Regions from separate parts of the Homo sapiens genome. Here region 2 is linked to region 1. The links come from fine-mapping of genetic effects on gene expression. Tissue or cell type: lung. Region 1 holds a variant in brackets; the other region holds the start of a gene. All regions are shown on one strand. Distances are from middle to middle.

The links. PIP is the estimated chance that this variant, and not a neighbour inherited with it, causes the effect.
Region 2: it holds the start of DCP1A, and the variant in region 1 is fine-mapped to the expression of DCP1A in lung (TOPMed, PIP above 0.99).

What each region holds. Positions count from the first base shown.
Region 1 is chr3:53,647,264-53,655,371 of GRCh38, reverse strand. It overlaps CACNA1D (calcium voltage-gated channel subunit alpha1 D), which reads right to left. Exons shown (of 48, transcript NM_001128840.3): 4 at 4,454-4,593. Among named protein-coding and RNA genes, the nearest start is that of CACNA1D, 160 kb to the right of the region's middle. The variant C/A (reference allele first, on the strand shown) is at 4,393.
Region 2 is chr3:53,343,652-53,351,757 of GRCh38, reverse strand. DCP1A (decapping mRNA 1A) reads left to right here and starts at 4,215. Exons shown (of 10, transcript NM_018403.7): 1 at 4,215-4,375; 2 at 6,816-6,856. The coding sequence starts at 4,241. It overlaps LOC105377094 (a long non-coding RNA gene), which reads left to right. Exons shown (of 3, transcript XR_940847.3): 3 at 879-988. RefSeq lists enhancers at 3,721-4,490, 4,026-4,616, 4,617-5,207.

The DNA.
Region 1 (8,108 bases):
AACAACAGAACTACCACTTGACCCAGAAATCCCATTACTGGGTACACACCCAGAGAAAAATAAACCATTCTACCATAAAGACACATGCATGTTAATGTTCACTGTGGCACTATTCACAATAGCAAAGACATGGAATCAACCTACATGCCCATCAATACAGATTGGATAAAGAAAATGTGATACACATACACCAAGGAATACTATGCAGTCATAAAAAAGGACAAGATCATTTCTTTTGTGGGCACGTGGATGGAGCTGGAGGCCATTATCCTTAGCAAACTAACGCAGGAACAAAAAACCAAATACCACACGTTCTCACTTATAAGTAGGAGCTAAATGATGAGAACACATGGACACAAAGAAAGGCCATTATCCTTTCTTCATGATAATGATTTTAATAAGGATTTACCTAGGTTTAAATCTAGCAACTTGCCGTTTGTTTTCTATTTGTCCTGTCCTTTGTTCCTTTTTTCTTCTTCCTTGCCTGTTTTGGATTTAGGGGTTTTTTTTAAATTCCATTTAATCTCTACAATAGGCTTATTAGATAGACCTGGGATTTTCTTTTTTAGTGGCTTCTCTAAGGCAAGTGTCAGTAAACATTTTCTATAAAGTGCCGAATAGTAAATATTTTAGAATCTGCAGGCCATAGGGTTTGTCACAACTACCCAACTTTGCCATTATAATACCAAATAGCCATAGGCATGACTGAATGTGGCTGAATTACAATGAAGCTTTATTTGCCAAAGTAGGCAGTAAATAAAATACTTTGTCAATGGTGGGGGAAAAAAAGGCTCAAACTAGATTTGGTCTACAGGTTGTAGCTCACCAATCCATACTCTAGGGTTTACAATATACATCTTAAAGGTATCACAGTCTATCTTCAGATAATATTTAATCATTCCAACTACTGTATAAGTACATCACAAGACCATATGGCTATTTCCCTGTTCCTATTCTTCATGCTACCATTGTCATGTACTTTATTTCTATAGAAGCTATAGACACCACAATACACTGTTATTATTTTTGCTTTAAATAATTACCTTTAAAGAAATTTTTAAACGAGGGGAGAAATATCTGTATATGTACCCACGTATTTACCCTTTCTGGTACTCTTCATTCTTTTTTGTGTAGAGCCACTTTCTGGTACTCTTCATTTCTTTCTGTGTAGATCCACTTTTCTACCTCGTGTCATTTTCCTTCAGCCCTGAGGAACTGTCTTTAACACTGATTGAGGTACAGGTCTATTAGTCATGAATTCTGAAACTCTAGAATGTCTGAAAAAATTTTGATTTTGACTTTAACTCTGAAAGATATTTTACTGAGTGAGAATCCTAGGTTGACATTTTTCCCCAGTACTTTAAAGATGTCTCTCTATTGTCTTCTGGCTTGCATAGTTGTTGACAAATAGTCTGAGATTTTCTTTTCTCTGTTTTAAGGTTTTCTCCTTATCTTTGGTTTTTAACAATTTGATTACAATTATGATGTGCTTGATGTGGCTTTTTTCATGTTTATTTTGCTCAGGCTTTGCTGAGCTTCTTGTGAGTTTCATTTTTCATCACATTTGGAAAATCTGGAGCTGTTTCTTCAAAATTTTTTTTCTGTCTCCTCTTTCTCTCCTCTCCTTCTGAGGCTCCAAATATATATATATGTTAGACCACTTGTTATTCCCCCACAGGCCACAGAGGCAGTATTCATTTTCTCCTCAATCATTATTCTTCATGTTATTGCCATATGTTCAAATTCCCTGATATTTTTTCCTTCTATAGTGTTTAAGCTGAGGTTAAGCCAAACCAGAGAATTTTTCATTTTGGATATATTTTTCATCTCTTAAAGTTCCATTTGTTTTTTTTTATATTGTCCCATCTTTCCTTACTATAATCAGGTATCCCTTTAAGTCCATAAATTTATAACAGCAGTTTTTAAAGCTTTGTGAAGTCCTTCTCTAATTCCATCATCTCTGTCATTTCAGGATCTGTTTCTACTGACGGAGTTTCCTCCTGGTTATGGGTCACATTTCTTCATATGTTCAGTGTCTGGATTTTGTTGTCTTCCTTTAAAGAATGTTGAGTTATGTTCTGGCAGGCAGTTCAGTTAGCATATCAGTTTGCTTTTTTTTTTGAAATGGAGTCTCACTCTGTCACCCAGGTTGGAGTGCAGTGGCATGGTTTTGGCTCACTGCAACCCCTGCCTCCCAGGTTCAAGCGATTCTCTTGCCTCAGCCTCCCATGTAGCCGGGATTACAGGCATGCGCCACCACACCCAGATAATATTTGCATTTTTAGTAGACAGGGGGTTTCACCATGTTGGCCATGCTGGTCTTGAACTCCCGACCTCAGGTGATCCACCCACCTCGGCCTCCCAAAGTGCTGGGATTATAGGCATGAGCCACCATGCCCAGCCTAGTTTGCTTCTTTTCAGACTTCTTTTCAAACATTGTAAGCAAGGATTTCAGGTAGTCTCTGTACTCTAGAGCAGCAATTGGCAAACTTTTTCTGTAAAAGGCCAAATAGTAAATATTTAAATATTTTAGGTTTTGTAGACCTAAACTACTCAAACTGAACTATGTAAACAAATGAGTGTGGCCATGTTACAATAAAACTTTATTTATAAAAATAGGTGGCAGGCTAGATGGGCTAGGACTTAGCCCATTGGCCACAGTTTGCCAGCCCCTGCTCTAGAGCCAGTTTAGCACTACTACCAGTGGCCCTGTGGGGTCTCTACTGACAGTCCAGGGTGTTCAATGAGGTCTTTCCACCCTAATTAGTCAGAATTTGAATGCCTTCCAGTCCTTTGTGAGCCCTGGTTATTATTCATTTTACAGCTCCCTGATCTTTCTCTTTTCCCTAGTAGTGGTCTTTCCTGGCCTCATGGACTCACAACTCCGTGTAGGCGTAGCTTAGCCCTCAGCCAAAACTGAAGAGTACTCTAAGGCATATTTATGAAGCTCTTTCTCTAAATAGCTCCCTCCCCTCCCCTATTCTGCCTCCCCAAACTCTTGTCTGTCTCCTTAACTCAATAAGACCACCATGCTCCACTTGGTTCCCTGTCCTTGTGCTGTGCTGTAGTGTGAAAAATGTCTCCAGGCAGAAATATGAGGTGATCATAGCACGGTGACGCAAGAAATGGGGCTAAGCATCTCCATTCCTAGCTGAACAAAAAGTCCAGTGGCAGAAGAGGCACAGCCAGATTATCCCAGAACCAACATACCTGCAAGGCTTCGGCTTGCCATTCCTCGACAGAGTCCACCAAATACAGGAAAGTACGGCACATATCTGCTACCTGTTCATTTTGGTACACTTCTTTTGCAATGATGCCTTAAATGACAATGTATTGGCGGCGGGGGCGGTTTGAAAAGCTAACTTGTTTCCCACAAGTCTAATTGTCCCACTGGGCAATTAGGATCTCATATTAACTTCCTAGGTTGAAAGGACCTAGGAAGGCCCACAACCAATTCCACTCTCCCAATACCCAGCAGAATTAGTCTCCAATGAAAAGGCAAAAGATTCATGATAAAAGGATAATCCACAAGAAAAATCACCTTGCTCAACTGCAAAAGGCAGTTCACTGAAGTCATGAAGATGAAAACAGAGAGGCTATTTACAGAAACATAATTTGAGGAGCAACTCACTTTACAGCTAGCATAACTAAGACTGGGAAAAAGGATATATCTTATCTTCCTACATGGGTATTTGGTCCAAAGACCCAGCATTCCTGTAACATGGATTCATTTTTCTCTTCCTGGCAACATTTCCAGGTGTGGAAGGACTAAAATAACACAGGCCACTATTTTTTATTTTAACATTCTCCTTTCACTAAAACTACTGATGTCTTCTTCCTGCAACAGGATTTTGGTGGAACACCTGCTTCTCTGCATTTTCTAGCTTATTTCATTTTATGCCAGATACGTGACATTATCCAGACACTTGTTTCATTATTTAAAATGGAACAGTAGTATGCCAGAGTTTCTCCCGCAAGTCAGCAAAAAAAAAAAAAAAAAAAAAAGAAAATTAATAGCTTTGCTCAAGGGATGTTAAATAGCAGAGTACCTTACTGCTATGAAGGTTTTATTACTTTTTACTTTTTTTAACTTAACATTGGCACTAAGTATTAAAAGCTCTACTCATTTGACTCTAATCACCAACAGGGTTGGTCTATTTCTGGAGATCCAAGACCGTGTTAGGTAAAGCCTCTCATATTAGGAGTTCAGACTCCCTTCTATAACATGTTACTAAAAACGGGAGTAACAACGAGAGAATTTCAAACTAGTATCTGCCCAGAGACTGACAGCAGCATCACCAGCCTTAAAAGAACTCCTGAGAGGTTCTGGTGCAACAGCTGGCATAAAAGAGCAACCACATTCCCTAAAAAGACTGTTTTGTTACCACCACC[C/A]CCCCCAACCTCCACCTCCCATTTTCCAAATCAACATTTCCCCAAAGTAAAAGAGACTTACCCTACTATTACTATAACAAAATCCAGTAAATTCCATCCATTCCTAACATAAGCATTAGGATGTAGCAATAATCCATACGCTATAATCTTCAAAAATGTCTCGACTGTAAAAATAATCAGGAAGGCATATTCTACTTTTTCCTGTGAAGAAAAACAAAGAAACATACCAAAAAAGCAGGGGCAGGGGAGGAAGAGGAGACAGAAAAAGGAACAGAGATTAGAATCAACACCTTAGACATATAAGCATTTCCCTCCAAACAAAGTTTCATTATGAGAAATGGAACAATTACACTGCCCCTGGGCCAGGAAGGCATTTACATTCTAACACTGAATTTCTCATAAGCAACTACGTGTGCAACACTTTTCGTTCCAGGCTGCATGACTGCATTTTGCCAACTGCCCCAATGCGTGTGATGAGTCTGCCTAGGACATAACAGGCATGTTTGTTATTTGCACACATTTGCAAAACGCAGCATGCTTTCCTCCTGAGGTTGCCAAATCAGGCCCAGAAAAGCACAAGGGTACAACAAAGATTCCAATGGTGTCTTTGAACAGAAGAAATTCATCCTCTGGAAAAAATGAAGATGCATCTGTTTTGACCCTCTCTTCCTCTTGGGTTTATGTCTGAGTTCGAAGTCACAGTCAGCTTTGTCACTGAGTAGCAAGGTAACCTTGGACAAGTCCTTCTCCTCCTCTGGATATAAGTTTTTGCATCCACACAATAAGGGAAGTAAATTCAGGATGGCAAACACCCTGCCTGCTTATTGGCATGCCGCCTCTCCCGGCTGAACTTGTGACAGGTCATCATGCACTTTCCCAGGAAACCTAGGCAGAGCCTCTGACCTTTCCTCTAGTATCCATCCCAGCAGCCATGCCCATCTGACTGCCACAGACCTCACAGGTGCTGCTCACGGGCTAAATGACTCGTAGAACCTTTCCAGTTCCAACCCATGCAACTCCATGAGCTGTGGAAAACATACCAATCAGCAAGTCTAAAAACTTTGACTCCTTCCTCTTTTACAAATGTTTTCTTTATACAGCTTCAGTTTCAATAGAAACATGGACCAACAGAGATGTGTGTAATTAACTTTGCAAGAGGCATTCCTCGGCATGAAGCTACTTAAATAACAAAGTATCATCAGCAACTGTAACTTTCCAATATGAACTATAGAGTCCTATACTAATATCAGTGGGACCCGAAAAGTTACCAATACCTTAGAGAAATGGAGGTCATGAAATTCACTCATTAAAATGCCTAGGGCAAGAGGTCAAAATAAAATAGGCTCAGGAAACACGTGAACACCACTTCTAAATGACAGGCACTGTACCAGGAGCCAGAAAAATGTCCCCACTATGGTACCTGTCATTTAGTCTGTTGGTGTGGGGGGGAGGTGTGTGGAGGGGGAAGTTTTGAATGTACACACAGAGAATTTCTCAAGAGTCACAAAAGTAGTAACTGACAAGAGCGATTCTCTATCTTCAGCCCTCCCATCAGGCCACCCCTGCCTTTTCACAACGGATTCCAGGGGGAAAAAAAGCACTTTGCTATATATTATCACTATTATATATTTTTATGCAATAGGCAAATGTGTATTTGAAAATAAATTTTATGTTTCTGAAGAGAACACTTTATATTCAGAAACATTTTTAAAAACACAAATTTTAGGATGATTCCCATAAGCCTGACCCTTTGAGGAACCGTCACCTATTAAATGTTTGCTTGCAGTATCCCCAACACCCTTGTGCATTTAAATGGAAGCCTTGCCTGTGCTGCCCCTGGGCTCCGGCTGTCTGCTGCCAGAATCGCTTCCCCTCTGTCACCGGCCGTGCCAGGCAGAACATCCCTTTGTCGTGCCACAGGTATCCTCCCTCTTGACCACCATGCAGCCATGGCCATGCATCCCAGTCTTTGCCCCCATTCTCCACTCTTCACTGGTCATATAACAGGGCTTCCTTCCAAGGACAGGGCTGTTGTGGTTCCTGTCATTTCTAAACACTTGCCCTCCAAAGCTCCCTTTGCTCCTCAGAACACCATTATAACAGTCTAGTGAACGAATTGTGTGTGTGTGTGTGTGTGTGTGTGTGTGTGTTTTGAGAGTTAGCCAGCATCAGTGTGTTTATAATTTAATTTAGAAAGCCTAGCTCATCTCCAACCTCTATACTCATGCCCCCTCTAGACTTCAGACCAGTCCTGTTCTTAGCCAGGCTCATCCCATGCCCCCATGCCTTCTTCCCCCATGCCCTTCATACAGCTACATGAAATGCCACGCTCAGAGCTACGAGGATGCCCTTCCTTGCTTACTGTCCAGATTCCCCGTTGCCCCATTCCCTGCCATATCCCCCAGAGGAGTGCTTGCTCGGGAGGCATGCGAGGCGTGGCTGCTGGAGGAACGATCACACACTCAGGCCACTGCGGTATTCTGAGGAGCAGGGACCAGCATTGCCACTGGATAGAGGGAAAGATACAGGAAGGCCTCAATGAAGCCATAACATTAACTCTGAAAGCTCAAAGAAAAAGGAACTCTGTTACTTCAACCAGAGGCAAAAATCCCTGAAAATGCCAACCCACAGTGCTCACATCAGACCCTGACCACCAAAGGCAGATTGTCAATATGTTTGAGACTTAAGAGTTCTAAGGGAACCAGAGAAGCTAAAAACAGCACACTGATTTTACAATTCATCCCTTTTTATCCTTGCTGCTTTATTTACTAGGCCAGAGAGAAAAAAAAAAGCTTTTGCTGCCATCAATATTCATAGCAGTTACATACCTACGTCAAGACAGCACACTATACTTCAGAGCAGAAAAACAAGGCAGAGAACAGACAGTACACCTCCCAAACAAAGCTTGTTTTTCCTCTCTGACTTTTATTTAGAAGAAATTTTGCCACAATAACACAAGGGCCATTAGTATAAATGAACTGTTTAACGTTCTTTTTCCTTCTCCTTTGCCCTCTCCCTGCTTTTTAAAGAATTTGGTTTCTCTTTCCAAAATCCTTAGTGAATTATTTGATGGGATTCTTCATAAGAAATACAAACTTCCTTTAATGCAATTCTTTATTACAGAGATTCTACCATGATGCCAACTGAACAATCACAGCCTGGAGAGCAGGCAGACCAGTTTGTCTAGAAGCCAATGTCATCCCGGTCCTCAATCCTGCCACTAAAAAGGAATCCTATGAAACAGGTATCCCTCCACATTCAACAAATGAAGTATTATTTTTAAATCTTGCAAAACGTCGTTCAGGAGAAGTGGGATAATTATTCGCCTTACAAAAGGATTGTTCATTTGAGAAAAGAATGTTGAATTAACAATTTGAAAAGGAAGCCAACAAGAAAGTCAGGTTCCTAACAGGCAAGGTGGGACTGTGGGCCCAGCCAAAACAGCTAGGTGAGAGGTGACACATAGAGGACACTGAGGTCTGTGGCCACGACTGATGGAAGCACAGAGGAAGAAGCACTGTCAAGGATGAAAGACTGGGATGGCAGAAGAAGGGGCCAGCAGGAACCCTCTAGAACCATACATGAAATGAGGCGTCCCTGGTATAAAAGGCCTGAGCAGGAGCTGTACCTTAACAGCCCTTCCCCAGGTACAGGGAAAGAGTAAATGATTCTTGCATCTCATCCCCCTCTGTGTGCCAGGCAGAGTCACACCTGTG
Region 2 (8,106 bases), 300 kb after region 1:
TTCGATTATTTTAGGAAATCTATGTAAGAAAAAAAACTAAGTTTCAGGTGTGCCTTTTGAATTTTGTACCAGATGAATGTATGTTTTTTAAACATTAAAGTGCAGATTTTTAAAAATTAGGGTGCGGATTTTTAAAACAGATTGAAGGTAAGTAGAGAGGAATAGGGCTCTTACCTCCAGCCACTGGAAGGAAGAAAGGCATCTGGGGCGTGTAGGAAAGGATCCCAGGGTAGAAGATAGGAGTCCCTAGATTCTAATACTGGATCCTCTGTGACTAGTGTGGAATTTTGAGCCAGTGAATTCTCCCCACAGGTCTCAATTAAATCATCTGTCAAATGAGGGTGACGACATCTTCTCTACCTCACCACTGAGCTGTGAAATGAACCAGAGGCCTTACTTTTTTCCCCTGAACTCCCAGTCATCCCTAGAACACCAATTTGAACATCATCTCCTTCAGGAAGCCCTCCTAGACTTTCCCAGCCAGTTAAGTTAGCGGCTCTGTCCTCTGGATTTCAAAGAGAAATGTCTCTAGCATCATCCCTGTTTCCTTGCACTGTCCTACTTTCTTTTTTCCCTCAGAGCCAGGAATGTCTTAAACAGAGTGAGATGCTCCCAAGGGGCCACCAGCTCACAATTAGGAGTTCAATAAATACTGACTTAAGAGTGAATGAATGATATCTGTGTCTTTGTCCACATTTGTACATGTTTACATGATTCTGCAAAGAATCTAAATTTCTCTTTACATTAACAAACAGGGGGGCTGGGCACGGTGGCTCAAGCCTGTAATCTCAGCATTTTTGTTAACCAGGACAGCCCTGACAAAATAACTGGGAAAGTTCCTTTTTCTTATTGTTTTTCTTTGGTCCCTTTATCTATAGACACTGCTGCTTAAAGAAACCAGATGGCGCCAGAGCTTCTTGACCCCTGACCAGATGCCAGAGGAAGATAAGACACCATAAAACCAGCGCAAATGGGAACTGGCAAACCCTGGGTGCCTTTAGATCATGAACATATCATTATAATGCTAATTTCCCTTCCCTAAAAGAAAATCTCTGCCATTTTGTGTACATATGATATATGAAGATGCATGTTTATGAATTGGGCCTGCGTGTCTGGAGTCCCACCCTGCACATACTAACATTCCTTTCCTGCCCCATAGGAATAAAGGCAATAAACCCCTTGCCTTTTATTCTTCAAGAAAAGATGCTTTCAGAGGAAGAGCTCACCTTCTCCATTCCCTGGCAAATGAATAAAACCTGATTGCCTTTTTCAATGGGATATTCTTTGTTTGTGACTGATACACAGTGGGGAAAAAACTCATTTTATCAGGGACACTTTGGGAGACCCAGGCCAGAGGATTGGTTGAGGCCAGGAGTTTGAGACCAGCCTGGGCAATAGAGCCAGACCCCATTTCTAAAAAAAAAAAAAAAAAAAAAAAAAAAAAGTTTTAATTAGCCAGGTGTGCTGGCACACAATTCAAGTTGTTTCACCTTTCTGGACAGAACCAATATACACCTGAAATGTATTTGATGTCTCATCTCTCCCAAAAATGTATAAAACCAAGCTGTGCCCCAATCACCTTGGGCACATGTTCTCAGGATCTCCTGAGAGCTATGTCAAGGGCTATGGTCACTCATAGTTGGATCAGAATAAATTTCTTCAACTATTTTACAGAGTTTGACTCTTCTCATCAACACAATGACAAAAAACAGTGGTCCTGGGATATAAAATCATAGGCAATACAAATATTTAGTGTTATTTTCTTGAAAATATGGTTTTATCTTACAAAAATTTTCAATTCTGTTGGGGATGTCAATTTTTTTTTCTTTCCAGACGTAGTCTTGCTATGTTGCTCAGGCTGGTCTTGAACTCCTGACCTCAAGTGATCCCCACCTCAGCCTACCAAATAGCTGGGACTACAGTTACATGCCACCATGCCCCCCCCTTTTTTTTTTTGGATGGAATTTCTCCCTCTGTTGCCCAAGCTCTGGAGTGTAGTGGTGCAATCTTGTGTCACTGCAACCTCCGTCTCCTGGGTTCAAGCTATTCTCATGCCTCAGCCTCTTGAGTAGCTGAGATTACAGGCATGTGCCACCACGCCCAGCTAATTTTTGTATTTTTAGTATAGATGGGGTTTCACCATGTTGGCCAGGCTGGTCTCCAACTCCTGACCTCAAGTGGTCCACCTTCCTCGGCCTTCCAGAGTGTTAGGATTACAGGCGTGAGCCCACACATCTAGCTACCATACCCTTTTTTTTTTTTTTTTTTTGAGTCTTGCTCTGTCGCCCAGGCTGGAGTGCAATGGCACCACCTTGGCTCACTGCAACCTCCGCCTCCCGGGTTCAAGTGATTCTCCTGTCTCAGCCTCCCAAGCAGCTGGGACTATAGGCGTGCGCCACCACGCCCGGCTAATTTTTGTATTTTTAGTAGAGACGGGGTTTCACCATATTGTCCAGGCTGGTCTCAAACTCCTGACCTCAGGCGGTCTTCCCACCTTAGCCTCCCAAAGTGCTGGGATTACAGGCATGAGCCACCACGCCCAGCCTCCATGACCTTTTTAACGAAAGAAATGTTGCTTTTTAAGAAGTCTGGCGGGGATAGAACTCCCTATAGTCTCCATGATTTGTTTTACTTGTTAGCTAGTGCCTAACTCTTTCAAACGCTTTAAAATGCTCAACAGACACTTACCAATGAAATGAGTGATCTGCTTAATGCTTTAAATGAAGCAAGACAAATTAAACCCTTCATGGACTCTTCCCAGGGCTGGACAAAAATATTTATGTGGGTCAGACGCAGTGGCTCACGCCTGTAATCCCAGCACTTTGGGAGGCCAAGGAGGGCAGATCACCTGAGGTCAGGAGTTCAAAACCAGCCTGGCCAATGTGGTGAAACCTCGTCACTACTAAAAAAAATACAAAAATTAGCTGGGCGTGGTGGCGGGCGCCCGTAATCCCGGCTACTCTGGAGGCTGACGCAGGAGAATCGCTTGAACCCAGGAGGCAGAAGTTGCAGTGAGCTGAGATCGCGCCACGGCACTCCAGTCTGGGCGACAGAGCGAAACTCCATTTCAAAAAAAAGAAAAAGAAAAAGAAAAAATTAGCCAGGTGTGGTGGCGGGCGCCTGTAATCCCACCTAATTGGGAGGCTGAGGCAGGAGAATCGCTTGAACCCTGGAGGCAGAGGTTGCAGTGAGCTTGAGATTGTGCCACGGCACTCCTGCCTGGGCAAAAGAGCGAGACTCCGTTTCAAAAAGAAAAAAAGAAAAGGGCCGGGCGCGGTGGCTCAAGCCTGTAATCTCAGCACTTTGGGAGGCAGAGGCGGGTGGATCGCCTGAGGTCAGGAGTTCGAGACTAGCCTGGCCAACATGGCGAAACCCCGTCTCTACTATAAACACAAAAATTATCAGGGCATGGTGGCGCGCCCATGTAATCCCAGCTACTGGGGACGCTGAGACAGGAGAATCGCTTGAACCTTGGAGGCGGAGGTTGCAGTGAGTCGAGATCGCGCCACTGCACTTCAGCCTGGGCGACAAGAGTGAAACTCCGTCTCAAAAAAAAAGAAAAAAAATCCACTTGTACCTTCTGCTAATCAGTGTATATATTCAAGGCAACTTGAATCTATGCTCCTGGGGTGCAATCCTCAAGCTTGGCCCAAATAAACTCTCTGCTTGCATTTATTTTGCCCCAGAGTCTTCTTCCTTTTAGGTCGACACATCCATATCTGAGACCTAGGGTAATTTTCTGGGCTTCTCGCCTCTCCCTTTCCCCCATGTTTTTCTGTGCTCTCTAAACGGGCCCGGTAGAGTCCCGCATTTCCACATTCCACAGACATGTTTTCCTTCTGTGGCCCCGGGCCCTGCCAGACAGCGCACCGCGAGGCCGGCACTTCGGCGGTCTCCAACCTTTGCCTGGAAAGAGCTCGGCAGGCGAGCTAGAGGCCAGATCCCAGGACCCAGTCGTTTTAGCTCAGGGAAAGGAAGCGCCGGAGCTCCAGCCTGCAAGCTCCACTACGCAGCCTTGGACACCGCCCACATCGTAGGGCCGCGGACCCTGACAACGCCGGAACCCGGCGCCCGGAGCGTGCGCGCGGCGGACCAGAATGGCTGACGTACCGCCCTGCCGCGAGGCCCGCGTAGAGGCGGAAGTTGAGGGGACTGACGCAGATGGGGGAATTTTGCCTCGATGGCACTTTCCTGTCCGCGACTCCGCCCCCACCAGAGGGGCTAGGCTCTGGGATTCAAGATGGAGGCGCTGAGTCGAGCTGGGCAGGAGATGAGCCTAGCGGCCCTGAAGCAACACGACCCCTATATCACCAGCATCGCAGACCTCACGGGCCAGGTCGCTCTGTACACCTTCTGCCCCAAGGCCAACCAGTGGGTGAGTGCCGCCTGGCCCTGAGGACGGCCACCCGGCCGCTGCCGTCTCTTAAAGGGGCCGCGCGGGTTACTGTGGGGTGGGGGGGCACACTAAGAGGCCAGGGCGGTGGAGACGAGGCCAGGGTCTGGCCAAGAGCCTAGCCAGAGCCTGAGGGGTGTCGGGTCCGCTTGGGATTGGGGGATAGGAGTGAGAGAAGTGGCTCGAGACATCCCAAGGAAAAGCCAGTGGAGGGGAGGATTGGAGCAGGATCAGTCCCTTGGCGTCGGGTCTGGGGACGTGGGCGACCTGCCTTCTTTGCAGATACATTGGGAGTTATAAGACCGGTGGGGTCAAAAGGGTGCCTGAAAGCTTGTGTTTGAGGCTTTGCGGATTATTAGATAAATTATATGTACATTATCTATAAAATAAACACTCCTCCTCTCCCCCTGGCAAACGTAAATGAGAGCCCCTGTCGCAGAGGTCATTTGGGTTTAAAGTTTAAAATCCAATTAGTTTCGATTCTTGGAAGGAGGGGGTGGGTGGGTCCGGCTTTAATCGAACTACACAGAGTTTCGGAAAAGATTCCAAGGCACTTAGGAAAAGGGCTTCCGTGTTCACTGGATCCCCGAAGACCTTTGTACAAACAAGAGAGACCCTGTAAATGTGTTTTGTTCCATCTATGATGCTGGTGATGTCATCTCTGAATGCTCCCCTCGGACTCAGTACTTTCTGGCTTTCGTGCACTGGGGAGGGTCCGAAAAGTCACATTCAGTGTGTTCACTGATTCTTGTTAGCCCCTGCTTGAAGCTTTGTTAGTTGTTTAAAAAGCATAATTTCCCACTTTCTTGTAATTGACCCTTCCTAATTAACTCATTCAGCTACAGGCTTTACACTTAGAAAGTAATACGTAAATGCTTGTTGGATTGAATTCACCAATGACTGGAGTTCACATTTCAATAAGATACGAAATCCTTAAACTGACAGAACTCTGGAAGATGACCGTAGTATGTCGTTTACCCTATAATACAGTTGCATAGATTATATTTATCAGTAATTTATCGAAAATCATTTGGCATTTATGAACAGTTAATTCAGATGAAGAGTTTTTATAATCACGTTGTTTATCTTTGCCTCCTGGAAGAGAAGGAGATATGGGAAGCCACAAGGAATAAAATTGTAGATTGTTTTTTAAATGTAGCTATTTTAGACATTGCCTTAGTTTGAAATTTTATGAATCTTTTTTCTTTTCTTGGCCTATATATAAATTTTGAAATATGGATTGCCGACAAATGGTGAAGACTTGGGGCTAGAGTTTTCCTAGTTTTTCACAAAGGCTTTCAATATTTTAAAATTTTACATTGTGGAGTTCTGTTTTAAATATGAAATACAAGCTATAATAACCTGAATTGAAAAATAAGCTGCTACTGTTTATTTGGATCCTGGCACATAGAGCATGACAAAAATCTTTTCCCTCTTTATTATTTTACAGTGAGTTGTAACTTTGCATGATGTTTTTTGGTGGGCAAATTTTCTTTTACTGTAAGACAGTTGATTACCAGTTTCTTATAGTAATAACCTAACATTTTAAAGGTAAGAAAAAGCCTCTGAATCCTTAGGAAGGAAAATAATGATATTTAAGCTAGGGTAGTACTTCTGGAAGAAATCGAGATGATCAATTTTCTAAATTTTTTAATCCCAACACATTCAATATATGACTAACATTTAAAATGTTAATAATGCGTTGATTACAGTAAAATATTTAGGTCCATTGTAGGCTGTAAATTGCAGACTAATAAGCTTATTTATTTTTTAAAAAACACTGAACTGTGTTTAAAACCTAAATACACTCTTGTCACAGAAAATGAACTATGGTAAAGGCCTCCAATAATTACACTGAGGCAGGGTATACTTTCAGTATTCAAGATTCTTCAAGTTCTAAAAATAACAAGCTGATTTTGTTTGGTAGTAATTCTTAACCACAAAATTTGCTAGTTGTCAAAATGTACGAAAACTCCCTAGTGATGAAACAAAGTATCCTATAAGAAAGTTTCATTCCTTTCCTTTTTTAAAATTAACTTGGATAAACTTAAAAGAGAAGAAATTGCAGTATACAGGACCTTAGCTTTAAAGTTAAGAAATCTGGCTAAAATATTTTAGCTATAAAAAGTGAAGGTTTATTCTATGATTTTCTCCTTTACTAATTAAAAAAGAAAAATACTGCAGATACAGATATGTTGCTGGATTAAATATTGCATATGCTTATGCACTGAAAGGATACATTAGAAATGGTAACCACAATTTGTGGAATGAGAGGGAGACTTTACCTGTTCAAAAGTGGTTAATTTTATAATAGATGAAATGAAACAAGTTGATCTTAAACGTGAAGCATTACTTCTCCATGGGGACTATTTGGGGTCTGATTATGGGGAAAAAAAACTAATTGAGTCATTGTCTTTCATAGGAGAAGACTGATATAGAAGGGACCTTATTCGTATATCGAAGGTAAGTTTTTAAAATATGTATATTTGTTTTTAACAGTCTAGTGGTGAACAATGTGAAACGGTTCAATTCTCTTGTACATTTGTCTTTGGAACCGTCCTGCTAGTACCCTTCAAGTTTTCATCTTTCCCTAGCTGTGAAATCTTAACCAGGTTCTTTCTTTTCTCTGAGCCTTTCTGTGATTCAGAATAAACTGAACTAGAATTTATATTACCAGCCTAGCAAAGCAATTTCAAAATAATAATGATTGAGTCTAAAATGGATGCCTGCGTCTCTCTTCCTACCCCCATATTAGAAAGAAAAAGAAAGATATATATTTGGGGAAAAGACAATACATAGACTGGCTCTGTAAAATAATGTTATTGAGAGGTCGATCCCTCTGTTCTTTCATTACTACATGAGTGGTTGTCTTTTATGACTGGTTCTGTCCTCTTTCCCAACCCACAGAAGTTCTGGATTATGTACAGTGTCTTATTTGAGAGTTCTTTAGAAAGCTTGGATTATTCATGATGGCGTATTTTTTATTTTTGACTTATTCAAAAATTCATTATCTTTAAGATTGGTTTGCAAATTGCAACTTTTTTGTTAGGCAGCTTTTGGGGCCTAAAGACAACTGACAGTATATGATAGTCATGGGGTACTTGTTTTCCTGGATTCCTCTAAGGTCTTAACTCTTACAAGGGCAGGTTCCTTCCCTTGTTTTCTAAAGCTTAGGGAGTCAGCAGGAGTTATTACTGATATCTGGTCTTTTCCCTTTTTTTTTTGTATTGAGTTGCTTCATAAGGATTGCCTTTCTCCATTGATGCCAATTTAAAAGAATTTGTCAAATACTCTTCTAAATTTTGATACAAAGCTTTGAGATCTCGTCTAAATGCACTCATTTTTTTCTTCTTTTAAGTGTAATTCTTTGATATTTGTACACCAAGCTCTTTTTTCTTAGACACTTTCTTTGTTCCCTGCTATTCATCTTTCTGCTTTTAAAAAGGAAGGGATCGGCCGGGTGCAGTGGCTCACGCCTGTAATCCCAGCACTTTGGGAGGCCGAGGTGGGCGGATCACGAGGTCAGGAGATCAAGACCATCCTGGCTAACACGGTGAAACCCTGTCTCTACTAAAAATACAAAAAATTAGCTGGGCATGGTGGCAGGCACCTGTAGTCCCAGCTACTTGAGAGGCTGAGGCAGGAGAATATCGTGAACCCAGGAGGCGGAGCTTGCAGTGAGCCGAGGTCGTGCCACTGCACTCCAGCCTGGG